4 linked regions of the Homo sapiens genome follow. Changing the gene in region 4 together with the main gene of any one other region gives a genetic interaction. Each region holds a gene or a part of one and is shown on either strand. Other genes may lie near its edges.

The links. A genetic interaction does not mean that the proteins touch.
Region 1: changes in ATR (region 4) and SUPT16H are lethal when combined (synthetic lethality), as found in Homo sapiens cells (one large-scale study listed by BioGRID).
Region 2: changes in ATR (region 4) and PPIA are lethal when combined (synthetic lethality), as found in Homo sapiens cells (one large-scale study listed by BioGRID).
Region 3: changes in ATR (region 4) and MCM5 are lethal when combined (synthetic lethality), as found in Homo sapiens cells (one large-scale study listed by BioGRID).

Annotation. Positions count from the first base shown.
Region 1 is NC_000014.9:21,367,020-21,370,519, forward strand, and holds part of SUPT16H (FACT complex subunit SPT16), read right to left. Parts: intron 3,470-3,500; coding exon 3,317-3,469; intron 2,878-3,316; coding exon 2,731-2,877; intron 2,337-2,730; coding exon 2,185-2,336; intron 1,423-2,184; coding exon 1,250-1,422; intron 1-1,249. UniProt on the Homo sapiens protein: Component of the FACT complex, a general chromatin factor that acts to reorganize nucleosomes. The FACT complex is involved in multiple processes that require DNA as a template such as mRNA elongation, DNA replication and DNA repair.
Region 2 is NC_000007.14:44,795,374-44,799,480, reverse strand, and holds the start of PPIA (peptidyl-prolyl cis-trans isomerase A), read right to left. Parts: upstream 2,801-4,107; 5' UTR 2,757-2,800; coding exon 2,688-2,756; intron 2,363-2,687; exon of another isoform or gene 1,860-2,362; intron 734-1,859; exon of another isoform or gene 577-733; intron 235-576; coding exon 204-234; intron 90-203; coding exon 1-89. UniProt on the Homo sapiens protein: Catalyzes the cis-trans isomerization of proline imidic peptide bonds in oligopeptides.
Region 3 is NC_000022.11:35,413,640-35,417,139, forward strand, and holds part of MCM5 (DNA replication licensing factor MCM5), read left to right. Parts: intron 1-235; coding exon 236-347; intron 348-2,189; coding exon 2,190-2,333; intron 2,334-2,699; coding exon 2,700-2,765; intron 2,766-2,998; coding exon 2,999-3,175; intron 3,176-3,500. UniProt on the Homo sapiens protein: Acts as a component of the MCM2-7 complex (MCM complex) which is the replicative helicase essential for 'once per cell cycle' DNA replication initiation and elongation in eukaryotic cells.
Region 4 is NC_000003.12:142,449,734-142,453,233, forward strand, and holds part of ATR (serine/threonine-protein kinase ATR), read right to left. Parts: coding exon 3,395-3,500; coding exon of another isoform or gene 3,323-3,394; exon of another isoform or gene 870-3,322; coding exon of another isoform or gene 840-869; exon of another isoform or gene 826-839; intron 1-825. UniProt on the Homo sapiens protein: Serine/threonine protein kinase which activates checkpoint signaling upon genotoxic stresses such as ionizing radiation (IR), ultraviolet light (UV), or DNA replication stalling, thereby acting as a DNA damage sensor.

The DNA of each region.
Region 1 (3,500 bases), on a different chromosome or scaffold from region 4:
AAGCTCCACCTCCCGGATTCACGCCTTTCTCCTGCGTCAGCTTCCCGAGTAGCTGAGACTACAGGTGCCTGCCACCACGCCCGGCTAATTTTTTTGTATTTTTAGTAGATGGGGTTTCGCCGTGTTAGCCAGGATGGTCCTGACCTCATGATCCGCCTACCTTGGCCTCCCAGAGTGCCGGGATCACAGGCTTGAGCCACCATACCCGGCCCCGATCCCATTCTTAATCATACTATTTGAGAATCACTGATCTAGGAGGACAGTGGTCTTAATAAAATACTTTAAGAGTTGATAAATGGTATCACATTAAAGTTATTATACATTTTCAAAAACAGATCCTTGTGGTGGGCCTGTTCCATTTATCACTAAATGGGTGAATTATTGTTATGAGGGCTGTGGCCTTAATTTTTCAGGATCTAGACTATGAATGGGTATGTCAAGCTAAAAAGTAGTCTAGATATGGTGGCCTCAGAGGGATCTTTATCTTCATTAAACTATCTATGGCTATGATTTCCAATAGGACTTCTTAAGACCGACTTAGAGATAATGTGGAAGAATGGTGTCTGGAAGCTCAGTATCCTTCGTATCGTTTTGATGTAGGATTAACAGTATATATCCTGTAGGTAGAGATACTAGTTCTCAGAACTTTCTATAACTAAGGAATAGTAATAAGGCCAAGGTATTTTGTGATGATCTGGACACAGAGGGCCTAACAAGTCAGAGAGGTTTCTATAAACATCAATGTAAACCACAATGATCACTCATGCTTGAAAGAAATGCAGATTCAAGACCTAGATGCTAGGATGATTCAACATTTGTAAATCTTATTCTGTTTTTAATATGAGAGCCTCAGAGACATAAACATAACACTAATGACATTTCTTTTTTGAGAGAAGGTCTCAACTCTATTGCCCAGGCTGGAGTGCAGTGGCGCAATCATAGCTCACTGCCGAGGTATAATCGCAACTCACTGCAGCCTTGACCATTCAGGCTCAAGTGATCCTCCTCAACTTCAGTCTGAGTAGCTGGGACCACAGGCGTGCACCACTATGCCCAACTAATTGTTTCATTTTTAATTTCTTGTAGAGATATGGGGGCCTCATTGCCCAGGCTGGTCTTGAACTCCTGGATTCAAGTGATCCTCCTGCCTCGGCCTCCCAGTGTAGGGATTACAGGTGTGACCCACAGCTCCCGGCCAATGACATTTTTGTTACACAACTTTCAAACCTCCTTTTCTAAGGCACCTCACCATGTCTTAATTCCTTCAGCAGCTCCTCTTGAAGCTGGAGCAAAAAGTTATAATTTTCTTGAACTTCTTGAGAAGGATCAACCATCAAAGTGCGAACAAGGTTGGAGCAGTAAGACTTGAAGCGAATACCCATGGCACAAGTGATAGCCCCAAAGTGCATATGATTCTTGTCACTAGAGACCAACAAAGAAAGAAAACATTTCATTACCAAAACTAGCAAAGTCCTTGGTATCAATGGGACACGGTATCAATAATCATTACTTTTCCCTGCCATATCCCAAAGCTGTGGCTGAATAAGGACCTAAACTTTTTTGTGTTTTGTTTTAAATAAACTAACCAGTTTATAAAGGCTCTGGAGTAAAAGTCAGTGACCAAAACTTTTAGGATAAAAATTCAGTGAGTAAGTGAGTACTGGATTACAAAAATGCAAATGATATCCTGAATTGTATCCATTATAGTCTAATTGTGGGGTTGTGAGGAGTCACTTATCCATTAGTCCTCTATGAATTGTGAGTTGTAATTAGTCTTAAGTTAAATGAGCCAGACATAAAAGGACAAATACTGAATGTTCTCACTTATATGTGGGAACTAAAAAATTGGATTACATGGAGATAGGGAAAAAATAGATAACAGAGACTGGTAAGGGTAAGTGTGTAGGGGGGCAGGCGAGGATGAAAAGAAGTGGGTTAAAAGGTACAAACATAAAGTAAGATAGAAGGAATAAATTCAATGTTTGACAGCAGAGTAGGGTGACTATACTTAACAAAAATGTATTGCACCTGGGTGATGGACACCCAAGATAATGACTTGGTAACACTATACATTATATACTTGTAGCCAAATTTCAGTGTACCCCACAAATTTGTACAGATTTAACAAAAAGAAAAAATAGGCTAAAGTCAAAATGCTATATTATGAAGTCTTCATATACTTACCTCACCACACTGAACTTGAGATTATAGTTGCCACCACTCTGAATGATAGGAGGGTAACACATTTCCACAGTAGAAGGGTCTGCCCCAGCAAGGTATTTTTTCTCTTCAATGGCCTTTTCCACAGACTCAGCCAGTTTGCTGTGTCGAACTTTCTGTAAGAGCATCCAGAAATAAAGTAACACTTACTAGAGGGTAGCAAAGCGGGGTGTGTGGACACTATGATTTGAAGACAAAATGTATCCTTGTATAAGTCTTAGGAAATGATTTATGCGCCAGGTAATATATTGGTATGCAGGCAAAACACATTTGGAGAACAATATGTAGGACTTACAGCTATTCCTATGATTCTCAAGTAAAATAATGGGTTACCTCAAGAAAACATAACGCAGGCTTACCATTATTTTGAAAGGGAGATGATGTAATTACCACCAACTTAAGTGTCAGTCTTAATTTCAAAGGAAGCTGAAGAACACACCAACAGATTTGCATGGTAGACTTATTACTGCTTCATTAAAACAGTAAAAAGACCCTCTCATCTCCATTTACCTCATCTGCATCAACTATTTCCATGACTCTTTCCTTGAAGAATTTGTTGAAGACTTCAGAAGTGATGCTGGCTGCTTTCTTCATTAGGTTGAGCTCCCCATCCTCCTTTACAGCGATGGTATATGCCACAACTGCACTGATATCTATCTGCAGTCAAAGTGACAAGAGTTTCTAACATGCAAGTACAGAATTACAAAATAAATGCATCTCTCCAATTTGAATATTACCAGTGATATTTCTGTTATTTAGCAAACTATCACTGGTTTGCAGAATATTCAAACATTCTCTTCTTGAACTGAATAAACATTTGAAATAGCTCTTTGCCAGGTCATTGTGTGTACTACAAGAGGTGTTAAGCTAATGTACCACTTAAAATGTAAACTGCCCTCTAGACGTTTTTTGTAAAGGCAGATAGAAGAAAGGCAGGGAAAAAAAATAAAACTGGCACACTGCTCAGCCAAAGGGGATAAAATGTAAACAAACATACAGTTTTCCCAAAACAAACGTCCTGCACTATCTGTTATGGAAGCCCATCACATTTCTGTCTTCTCAACTCTTGATTTGCTATTTCCAGTAGTATTCTTACTTTGTCAAAGCCTTCTTTGTTGAGGCAGTCATTCCAGCTCTTCATGAACTCTCCAGGGAATTTGTCTTTGCTGAACACTCCAATCTTCTTGCCATTCTTGCTTTCTTTAATGGCTTCAATCATTTTGTCAAAGCTACTCTTATTACTTTCATTCTGTCAGTGTCATAGGGAAGAAAAGACACAT
Region 2 (4,107 bases), on a different chromosome or scaffold from region 4:
CTGACACATAAACCCTGGAATAATTCTGTGAAAGCAGGAACCCTTATAACCAAATCCTTTCTCTCCAGTGCTCAGAGCACGAAAATTTTCTGTTTAAAAAAAAATTAAACACATATATACATACATAAAAATATATATATACACACACACACACAAACTGTCACAATTGGAACATCTTTGTTAAACTTAGAAAATGGACCAACCTGCTGTCTTTGGGACCTTGTCTGCAAACAGCTGTAAGAGAAAATTACAGTTAATTAACATCTGCTTATTTTGTTGCTTAGTACCCATGTCTTTAGGGGCTTCTGAGTCATAAATTCATTTTCTCACTAGAATACTTCTTCAGTAATTACTTTAATTCCCAAGAACTGCTCCTGACAGCCATAAGGCCCTGCAGGCAGTTGGGTTAAGAAACATGAAACCCAAAGACATGCCAAAAATCCAATACTAGTCATAACTTAAATAGTGAGACTTCTAGAAAGTGTCTCAAACTTTTAGTACATCACACCTACTTCTGAAAAGATATATGGCTTCTTAAATGTCTATCACCACCCCCCAACTTGAGCTAGAACTTACAAGGCAAAATTCTAAGGAACAGCAAGCACTGCTGCACGATCAGGGGTAAACAGCTGTTCTTTTAGTCACTTGTAATGAAAATGCTACTACCTCCAATCTGTTAACATAGCTTTATGGATTAGATGAGCAGTCACTTCTTGGTATCCAGGCCCCTTACCTAGTAGTGGGGTAAAAAATAAAGATTGGTTTCTAGTATATCTGGTTTTGAACCTTTCTTGAATGTATAATACGTTATGGCTAGAGAGGTAGCTTAAATACCATAAACATTTACAAGCCCTTTCATAAAAACAGCTTGTTTAAAAGTAGCATTTTATAAGCTATTTCACAGATGTGACTGAATTAACTACTAGTATCCGTGTGCACTTCTCTTATAGCAATGTACTTTTTTTTTTTTGAGACAAGAGTCTCACTGTCACCAGGCTGGAGTGCAGTGGCACGATCTCGGCTCACTGCAGCCTCCGCCTCCGGGGTTCAAGCGATTCTCCTGCCTCAGCCTCTAGAGTAGCTGAGATTACAGGCAAGCGCCACCACGCCCAGCTAATTTTTGTATTTTTAATAGAGGTGGGGTTTCACCATGTTGGCCAGGACGGTCTCAATCTCCTGACTTCGTGATCCGCCCGCCTGGCCAACGTACTTATTTTTTAGTTTTTAGGTATTTGTACCTAGAATGTATGGTCTTTCTAAAACATCAGCTTTTCTCAGAGCTTTATAGTCGGTACGTTTAAGTTCCTATGGCTTCCCTTTCAGACTTTCGCTAAAGCCAAAGCCCTCATTGGCAGTTACCCCTCCATTCTCATCAAGACCTGCAAGTCCTTTCTCATTTCCCTGAAGCTCTTTGGGTAACCTGATGCCCAACATTAGGTCAGGCCAAGTTTCCACGAAAGCCCTTGTCACTTACCAGCTTTGACTACACTCATAGGTGGGGTGGGGTGTGGATTAACATGCAGTGTTTCAGTGCCTATGTGCCAGGCACTATGGACAGGGTAGGCAACAAGGAAATCGCTCTGTCCTCACGAAGACTGCATGAGGATCAATCTATTTTCGGAATAAGATCCCAAACTAGCCATTGGTGGCCTTTTGAGATGTGATTTAAAGGAATAAAACCACTAACATCCTATTTCGCTACTCCCTAAGGTCTATCCATGTTAACTGGAACGGAATCGTACTCAATATTTAACTTTGAAGACACGCGCCAAGTTTAGATACTATGCTATAATTACAACTGATCTTTAAGAACTCATTTAACGCTCTCAAAACTAATTAGGTAATCACTGGTAATCCACCTTGGTCGGAAGAGGCCTGCCTTGTGGCCAGTCGCAACTTGCTTGCTAGGCAGAGGGACAATCGGGAGGGGCTCAAGAGCGCCTCCCCCGCCAGCGCCGTCACTGCAGTGGAAGGCGGTCCTTGGGCACCAGCAAAGGCAAGGCCCATTTTCACATTTCCGCTTGGGGGTGGGGGACACGGAGGGACGTTTGGGGCACATGTATAAATATTCCTACTTTATCCAAATGGAAGATATTTCAAGTGGCAACCCGTCACATCCCAGCAAGTCTCCTTTTATAACATGGCCTCCCGGGATCTACAGGACCGAGCATGGACGGGCTCACACCGCGCCTCGATCCTTGAGAAAAACCCTCAAGCAAACAGCTTCCCAGCTCAGGATGTAAAGCACCCATGCCTGCCAGGGGACAGCTTCCCAGGAAGGCGGTCGCAAGCCCCCGCGAGCGTGCTTCTGGCTCCGGTCTGCGGCGCCCAGGCCAAGCTAGGGCGGAGCCCAACGACTCTCAAGGCGCGGACCTGAGCGCGGCCGCCGAGCACGTGCGTCGGACAGGACAGGGCGCGGCCACATGAGGCGGGCGGGCGGACGCGGGCCCCCTCCCCCAACGGCCTCGCAGCCGCCCCGCCTGCCTTTGTCCGCCGCCGTCCCGGCCTCCTCCCCGCGACTCGCGGACCTCCCAAAATGGCCCCTCGTCAGGAAATGGCGCCGCAGCCCGCCCGCGCTCGCCCCTCAAGCAGGGTCGCCCCGCGCCCGGGCCTTTGGGGCGCTACCACCCACCCCGACCCCGGCCCACTTTCTGGGCCCCATTCCCGCACGCCGCCGCCCGCCCGACCTCAAAGGAGACGCGGCCCAAGGGCTCGCCGTCGACGGCAATGTCGAAGAACACGGTGGGGTTGACCATGGCTAATAGTACACGGTTTTCCTCGGCGGTGGCGTCTGCAAAACGGCACGAGCCTGGCCTCCCGCCCCTTTTATACCACGTTCGGCCCCGCCCGCAACCCGGTCTCGCGCCTCCGTCCCGGCCAATCGGGTCTGCGACTTCGCCAGAGTGACAGTGCATCTGGCCTATAGACGGAAGCCGGCGCTGATGGGGACGACACATGAGGCGCGCGTGCGCGCTAACGCGCGGAGGCAGGTTCCCGCCTGCGGGCTCCGTCGCGGTGGCTGCGGCATGGGACTCGGGGCGGGGCGGCAGTACGGGACGCGGGGCACGGGGGAGGGTCAGTGCGGAACGGGGGTGGGCAGCATGGCGCGCGCACGCGGGAGACGGAAGCGCGGCGGCTCTTCGGCCGTTGTCAAGCGATGAGGCGCGTCTCCCCATTGCACAGAGGGGGCAACTGAGGCGAACGCAGGCCTCAAGGTCGCGCCGCCAGTCAAGGTCGACTGGGGTCCCGCGCCCGGACCCTACGCCTCCGCGAGCGGAAATGGGGATGGCGCGTCCCCGAGACCTAGGAGCAGCCTTGCGTCCGCATTCCGCGCGGGCAAACACCACGTCGCGTCCTACCAGGCAATGTCAGGAAGGAGGTTGCCTTTGAGCATCGCTGTTTTCTCTAACGAGGTGGGACAGGAGCAGTCTCCGGTTTTGAGAGATTATGAAATGCTTTCAAAATGCTCTACTTTCCGAAAATATCTTACACTCTGCTTGAATCTTCTTCAGGAGGAAGCCATTAAAACAGGAGCCTGGCCAGGCTCTTACCTGTGAAGATGCATTATGCACATTTTGCCCTCTTACTCTTTTTGAATCTCTGCTCCTGGTCTTTCCCTGCCCCCGCCCCGCCCAGCTCCTACCGCCCCCGCCTCGGGGCTGAATTGTGCTTTGATTTTTGGGTGAAAGATAAGTCACAATTTAAAAGCGAATTTCTTCAGGCAAAGACATTAATAATACTTTAATTAAAATGCACTTGTAGGCCAGGCGCGGTGGCTCATACCTGGCGCTTTAGGAGGCGCGGAGGCCAAGGCCGGGGAGGATCGCTTCATCTTAGGAGTTCGACACCGGCCACCAGCCTGGGCATCTTAGAGAGACGCCGTCTCTACAAAAAAATAAATAAAAATAAAAATTAGCTGGGCGTCGAGGCGCTCGCTACTCAGGAGGCTGGGCGGGGAGGATTGCTTGAGCCCGGAGGTCGAGGCTGTAGTGGGCGGTGATCGCATCACTGCATTCCAGCCGGGACGACAGAGTGTGACCCTCTCTCAAAAAATAGGCCGGGTGCGGTGGATCACGCCTGTAATTCCAGCACTTTGGGAGGCCGAGG
Region 3 (3,500 bases), on a different chromosome or scaffold from region 4:
CTCCTCTTCTGGGAGGCAAGCTCTGTCCTCATTGCTAGGCAAGACCTACCATGGTTTGGGAACTACAGAGCTGGGTAGGAACATGGGTCTCAGGCCACAGCCACTACCTTCTTACCAACTCTGAGGCCCATGATAGTTGGGGGAGTCAACTGCCAGCCCACCAATCTGGTGACTGGATGTCACATGCGATGCCCTCATGGATTCTCACCTTGTCCATCTACCCTTCGTCCCCCAGGCTCCCTGATGGACTTACTCGCCGAGGAGACATCAACCTGCTGATGCTAGGGGACCCTGGGACAGCCAAGTCCCAGCTTCTGAAGTTTGTGGAGAAGTGTTCTCCCATTGGGGTGAGTGGCCTGGGATACCTTTGCCACCTTGGCTTGCAGGGAGGAAGGCTGCAGGGCAGGGCCTCTGGGTCCTCAGGACACCTGTGGTGGGCTGGCTCACCCGGAATCTCTTCCTCCTTTCTCTTGGCTGCGGTCAGGATGGCCGAGGAGATGGGAGGAAGAAGGGAGCCAACAGGTGTATGTAGGTTTGGGGCAGGGGGCGAGTACACTGTACTGAGAGTCAGGATGGGGTTTGGGTCTCACCCTGGCCAGAAATTGGCTGTGGGCTTTGAGTAAGTCACCCAATCTCCCTGAGCGTCAGTTTATCCATTTGCTAAATAATGATATTGTTATCATTAATAGCTAAAATCTGGCTGGGCATGGTGGTTCATCCCTGTAATACCAGCGCTTTGGGAGGCCGAGGTGGGCGGATTGCTTGAGCTCAGGAGTTTGAGACCAGCCTGGACAACATGGTGAAACCCTGTCTTTACCAAAAATACAAAATAACTAGCCAGGCGTGATATGCACCTGTGGTCCCAGCTGCTTGGGAGGCTGAGGTGGGAGGATCACTTAAGCCCAGAACGGGGAGGTTGCAGTGAGCCAAGATTGTGCCACTGCACTCCAGCCTGGGTGACAGAGTGAGACCATGTTTCAAATAATAATAATAAATAATAATAATAATAATAATAGCTAAAATGAAGGGCCAGACACTGCTTGAAGTACTTTGCATATATTTACTTAGTCTTCACCTCAACTGTGTGGCAGGTACTATTACCCCTGTGTTAGGGGTGAGAAAACTCAGGTACAGAATGGGTAAGTGTCTTGGCCCAGGTCTCACTGCTGGTAAGCATTAGAGCAGGATGTGATTGAACCCAAGTGTCTGATGAGCTGGGTCCTCTGCTGCGTTGTTGAATGGGTCTGCGGGGATCAGAGCCAGAGAAGGTCTGACATGATCCGAGTGGCGGGGTTGTATAGGGCGAGATGGTGGTCTTTGGATAGATAGGAAGTGTGCCAAATTTGCCACACTGGCACTGTCCAGTAGAAATAGTGAACTGCACATGCGACCCATGTATGTCTTCTCAGATTGTCTAACAGCCACATTAAAAAGTAGCTGGGTGCGGTTGTGTGCATACCTGTAGTCCCAGCTACTTGGGAGGCTGAGGTGGGAGGATCACTTGAGCCCAGGAGTTTGAGACCAGCTTGGGCAACATAGCAAGACCCCGTTTCAATTTAAAAGGAAGAAGGGGAAAGAAAAAAGGAAAAACAGGTGAAGTTACTTCTGTTTAACTCGCTATATCTAAAATCTCATTTCAACATGTTGTTTGATATGTAGATTATTGAGATACTTTACATTCTTAGGAGCTCTGAGTCTTTGAAATCGTGCGTATTTTGCACGATTAAGGACATCTCAGTTAGGACTTTCCCAATTTCAGGGGCTCTATGGCAGTATGTGGCGTGTAGGTCTATATAGAGACGACAAGGGACTCACGATGGGGGCAGGCTTTCCCTGGGAGTCAGGAGTCCTCATCCTAGCCCTGAGGCTAACTCCTCTTCTCTGGGCCTCAGTTTGCTCATCTGTGAGTTGGGCCTCACAAGACTGTGTCACAGGGCTGTGGTGAGGCTTAGGTGAGCCATGGATGTGATGCCCTCAGCGGGGAGAACATCTGGGCACACCGAGGCCCAGGGCAGCATCCCCTTCCAGAGGGAGACGCACTGAGTTGGAGCCTTGAGTCCTATTCTGTACCCTGCAGCCAGCTTTGATGTGTGACCTTGGGCAAATCACAACCTCAGTGGGTCTTTTTGTCTTATGGGGGTCAAAGCATGGAGTTGTTATTGGGCCCTGACACCACCCCACTGCCCCAGGTATACACGTCTGGGAAAGGCAGCAGCGCAGCTGGACTGACAGCCTCGGTGATGAGGGACCCTTCGTCCCGGAATTTCATCATGGAGGGCGGAGCCATGGTCCTGGCCGATGGTGGGGTCGTCTGTATTGACGAGTTTGACAAGGTGAGTCTGATGAGGTGGGTAGTAGCCAAAAGGTGGGTGGCACCAGGGTATGTGACTTCCTGTGCTCAGCCAGCAGAAATCACCTCTGACTTGGGAGACATGTTTTCAATCCCTGGGCCGGTCACTCTAGTAACTGTGGGAAGCTGCTTAACCTCTTCAAGCCTCAGTTCCCATATCTGAAGAGTGGGGAGAAGAAAGGCAAGCCCACACAGTTGTTCCCATGATTAGAGGTGACCTGGTTGCTGCCATTGGCCTTGCGTGGAGCTGGTATTCAGGAGTGAGGGCTGCTGTTAGTTTTCCTGTTTCTACTGCTCCCTGCTCCCTCACTTCAGTAGGTCTGATGATATTTCTCTCTTCCCCACTTAGATGCGAGAAGATGACCGTGTGGCAATCCACGAAGCCATGGAGCAGCAGACCATCTCTATCGCCAAGGTGAGTGGCCCTCCATGGAGAGCCCAGCCTGCAGCAGCCCAGCGTGGCCCAACCGTCCTCAGGCTGCCCTGATTGGGACCAAGTTCTCTTTGCCCAGGCCTAGAATCTGTGTGTGTGTGTGTGTGTGTGTGTGTGTGTGTGTGTGTGTGTGTGTGTGTGTGTGTGTGTAAACGTGTATATAAGAAGGCATCTTTGCCATCTCCTCCCCCTTTTCGTCGTCTGTCGCCTGTTAGGCTGGGATCACCACCACCCTGAACTCCCGCTGCTCCGTCCTGGCTGCTGCCAACTCAGTGTTCGGCCGCTGGGATGAGACGAAGGGGGAGGACAACATTGACTTCATGCCCACCATCTTGTCGCGCTTCGACATGATCTTCATCGTCAAGGATGAGCACAATGAGGAGAGGGATGTGGTACGTCCAGGGGCAGGGCTGGTGGCCATGGGACCTGCCTCCAGGCAGGCTTGTGATTGTGTGGGAAGGAGAATGGAGAACAAGGGCCTTGGCTGGCAAAGTCCTGACTGTCAGGCTGTGAAATTGGGGAGCACGTGAGAGGGCGGTTGTTGTGGACTGCAGAGGATTGAAGCAGGGTCTGGAGTCCTGTGGCCTGCTCTGCCTCTGCCGTGAGTGATAAGCTGTGTGATTTGGGCTAAATCAGTTTCTCCCTGGGCCTCAGTCCCTTATATATGAAACAGAGGAGTTGACATTGGGTTATGAGTAATAGAACCTCAGTTCTGGT
Region 4 (3,500 bases):
AGGAAAAGAAGAAATTAAACAAATACAGTTAGCTTGTGATACTGATTTGGAGGCTCGCAAGATTGATTCAACATCAACTGCTTGGACATGTTTCTGGACTACGTGAAATACCAGGGAATTATTTACACATTACAATTCTAGAAAAATAATTTTTTAAATCTGCTTTGGAAGTGTTTAGGACTTAAACATTTCAATGAATATTCAAATAACAATGCTGTACTGCCTAATATTTACATTATGTTAGTACATGCAAATGGGTGTTCTAAGTGAGCTACTTGGAACTGTACAATTTCTTAAGCATATCTGAATGCAAAAGGAAGAATAACGTTATTAGAAGAATAATTCTCAGAGGTGGTGCTGGGTGGGCTGGTGGGCTGCGCTGCAGCCCACGAGCACAAAGAGGAGGGCCACGGGGTGGAGACTGTTGCTGTGCCATCTGCCATCGACTTTTCCGCCAAGAGCCTGGACTCCAAATATGACTTATGTTCCAGCAGAACTCCAGGTATTAAAATAACCCCTACAACAGCCAACTTTCCCTTTTGCAGTTGCAAACCAGCTGCCGCTTATTTCTTTGGTGAAGCACTTGAGCCATGTGCGTGAACCAAACCCAGTTCATTCAAGACAGTGTTTAAGTTACTTTGCCAGACCTTTATCAAAATGGGGCTGCTGTCTTCTTTCACTTGTGACAAGTTTAGCTCATTGAGACTACATCACCACAGAGCTATTACTCACTTAATGAGGTCCACTAAAGAGAGAGTTCATCAGGATCCTTGTGAGGCTATTTCTCATATCCAGAAAATCAGATCAAGGGAAGTACCCTTTGAAGCACAAACTTCACGTTACTTAAATGAATTTGAAGAACTTGCCATCTTAGGAAAAGGTGGATATGGAAGAGTATACAAGGTCAGGAATAAATTAGATGGTCAGTATTATGCAATTTAAAAAATCCTGATTAAGGGTGCAACAAAAACACATTACATGAAAGAACTACGGGGAATGAAGGTGCTGGCAGGTCTTCAGCACCCTAATATCATTCGTTATCACACTGCGTGGACAGAACATGTTCAAGTGGTCCAACCACAAGCAGACAGAGCTTCCGTTCAGTTGCCATTTCTGGAAGTGTTCTCCGACCAAGCAGACAGATACCAATACGGTGTTAAAAATGGTGAAAATAGCAGCTCACCCATTATCTTCGCGGAGCTCACCTCAGAAAAGAAAAACCCTTTGCAGAATCTGACACTCAAAATCAGAACAACAAGCTGTGAACTACACCATCAATTCCGTCTTAAGAGACACCAGTGAATATGAATCATCCCTGGAGCTCCAGGAAAATGGCCTGGCTGGTTTGTCTACCTGGTCAATTGTGAAACAGCCCCTGCTGCTCAGGTGTAATTCCCTCCTAGAGGAGAATTTCACATCCACTGAGGAATCTTCCAAAGAAAACTTCAACTTGTTGGGGATCGAGGTGCAGTACCACCTGATGCTGCACATCCAGATGCAGGTGTGCAAGCTCCAGCTGTGGGACTGGCTAGCTGAGAGAAACAAACAGGGCCAAGAGTGTGTGGGCAAGTTTGCCTGTCCTTATGGCCAGTGTTGCAACAAAAAATTTTCAAGATTTAGTGGAAGGTGTGTTTTACATACATAACATGGGTATTGTAAACAGAGATCTGAAGCCTAGAAATATTTTTCTTCATGGCCCTGATCAGCAAGTAAAAATAGGAGACTTTGGTCTGGCTTGCCCAGACATCTTACAAAAGAACACAGACTGGACCCATAGAAACAGAAAGAGAACACCAACACCTATATCCAGAGTGGGCACTTGTCTGTATGCTTCATCCCAGCAGTTGGAAGGATCTGAGTATGATGCCAAGGGTCTCACTCTGTTGCCCAGGCTGGAGTGCAGTGGTGTCATCATAGCTCACAGCAGCCTCCAACTCCTGGGGTCAAGTGATCCTCCCACCTCAGCCTCCCAAGTAGCTGGGACTACAGGAGTGTGCCACTGAGCCCAGCTAATTAAAAAAAAACAAAAACTATTTGTAGAGACCAGGGCTGGCTTTGTCCAGTTAGATATGTATATAGCTTGAGTGTGATCCTGCTAGAGCTCTTTCAGCTGTTTAGAACAGAAATGGAGCGAGCAGAAGTTTTAACAGGTTCAAGAACTGGTCAGATATTGGAATCCCTCAGTAAAAGGTATCCAGTACAAGCCAAGTATATCTATCACTTAACGAAAAGGAACATGTCCCAGAGACCATCTGCTCTTCAACTGCTACAGAGTGAATTTTTCCACAATTCTGGAAATATTAATCTCACCCTACAGATGAAGATAATAGAGCAAGAAAAAGAAATTTTTCTTTTAGTTCTTTTAGAAGAACTAAAGAAGCAGCTAAACCTTCTTTCTCAAGACAAAGGGTTAAGGATGACATGAAGGATGGGGGCGTACAGGTCTAGCCTTCCTCGAGCTATATCAGTAGGATGAAAGTGGACTTAAACTCTTTAGGTAGTTAACTGGAATGTAAATTTTTAATCTTTATTAGCATATAGTTGGTATAATTCATTGTATTTAGTAAGCCTGTACAAGACTTATTAAAGATGTAAGAGTGCCCCCCACCAAAAAAAACGAATCCTCAATCTATTCTAACTTATTAAAAACAACTATCTGAGCTAGGCACAGTGGCTTATGCCTATAATCCCTGCATTTTGGGATGCTGAGGTGGGTGGATCACTTGAAGCCAGGGGTTCAAGACCAGCCTGGCCAACATGGTGAAACCCATCTCTACTAAAAATATAATAATTAGCCAGCTGTGGTGGTGCACGCTTATAATCCCAGCTACTTGGGAGGCTAAGGCAGGAGAACTGCTTGAACCCAGGAGGCAGAGGTTGCCGTGAGCCAAGATCGTGCCACTGTACTCCAGCCTGGATGACAGAGCGAGACTCTGTCTCAAAAACAACAACCACCACCACCACCACAACAACAACAACAAAACTATCTGCAAACTTTGCAGCTTCAACTAAGTAAGAAGTGAATTGCTGCATTTGTTAACATAGCTTGTGACATACTGGTATCATGATATTAAAGCTCAGACCTGTTGTTCTGTAAGTTCAGGCAATTTGTACTATAGTTTTTCCTACTGTATCTCATAACTGTGAATTGTCTATGGTTAAACAAGTGTGCCATGAACTTTTATTATACAAATGCGAATACTGTTAACATTACTGACAATAAAGAAAACTTATGGCATTGTGATACTAGAGAACTAGATTTCAGAGTAATCAATAGTCACTAACAGTATTTCCAAGCAGTTCTCATGCATAGAGATGAGAACTATAGCTGCATATCAAGTTCATTTGTAGAGATGAGGACTACAGCCCATATCAAGCTATACCTTCTACTAACCTTTTCATTGACAACTTCTCCAGTTTCATTCAGTGGCGCTTTGGAATGCCCTTTCACTGGTTTACTCCATTCCACAAGAGGATCATGTAGAAAAGTCTTTAAGACA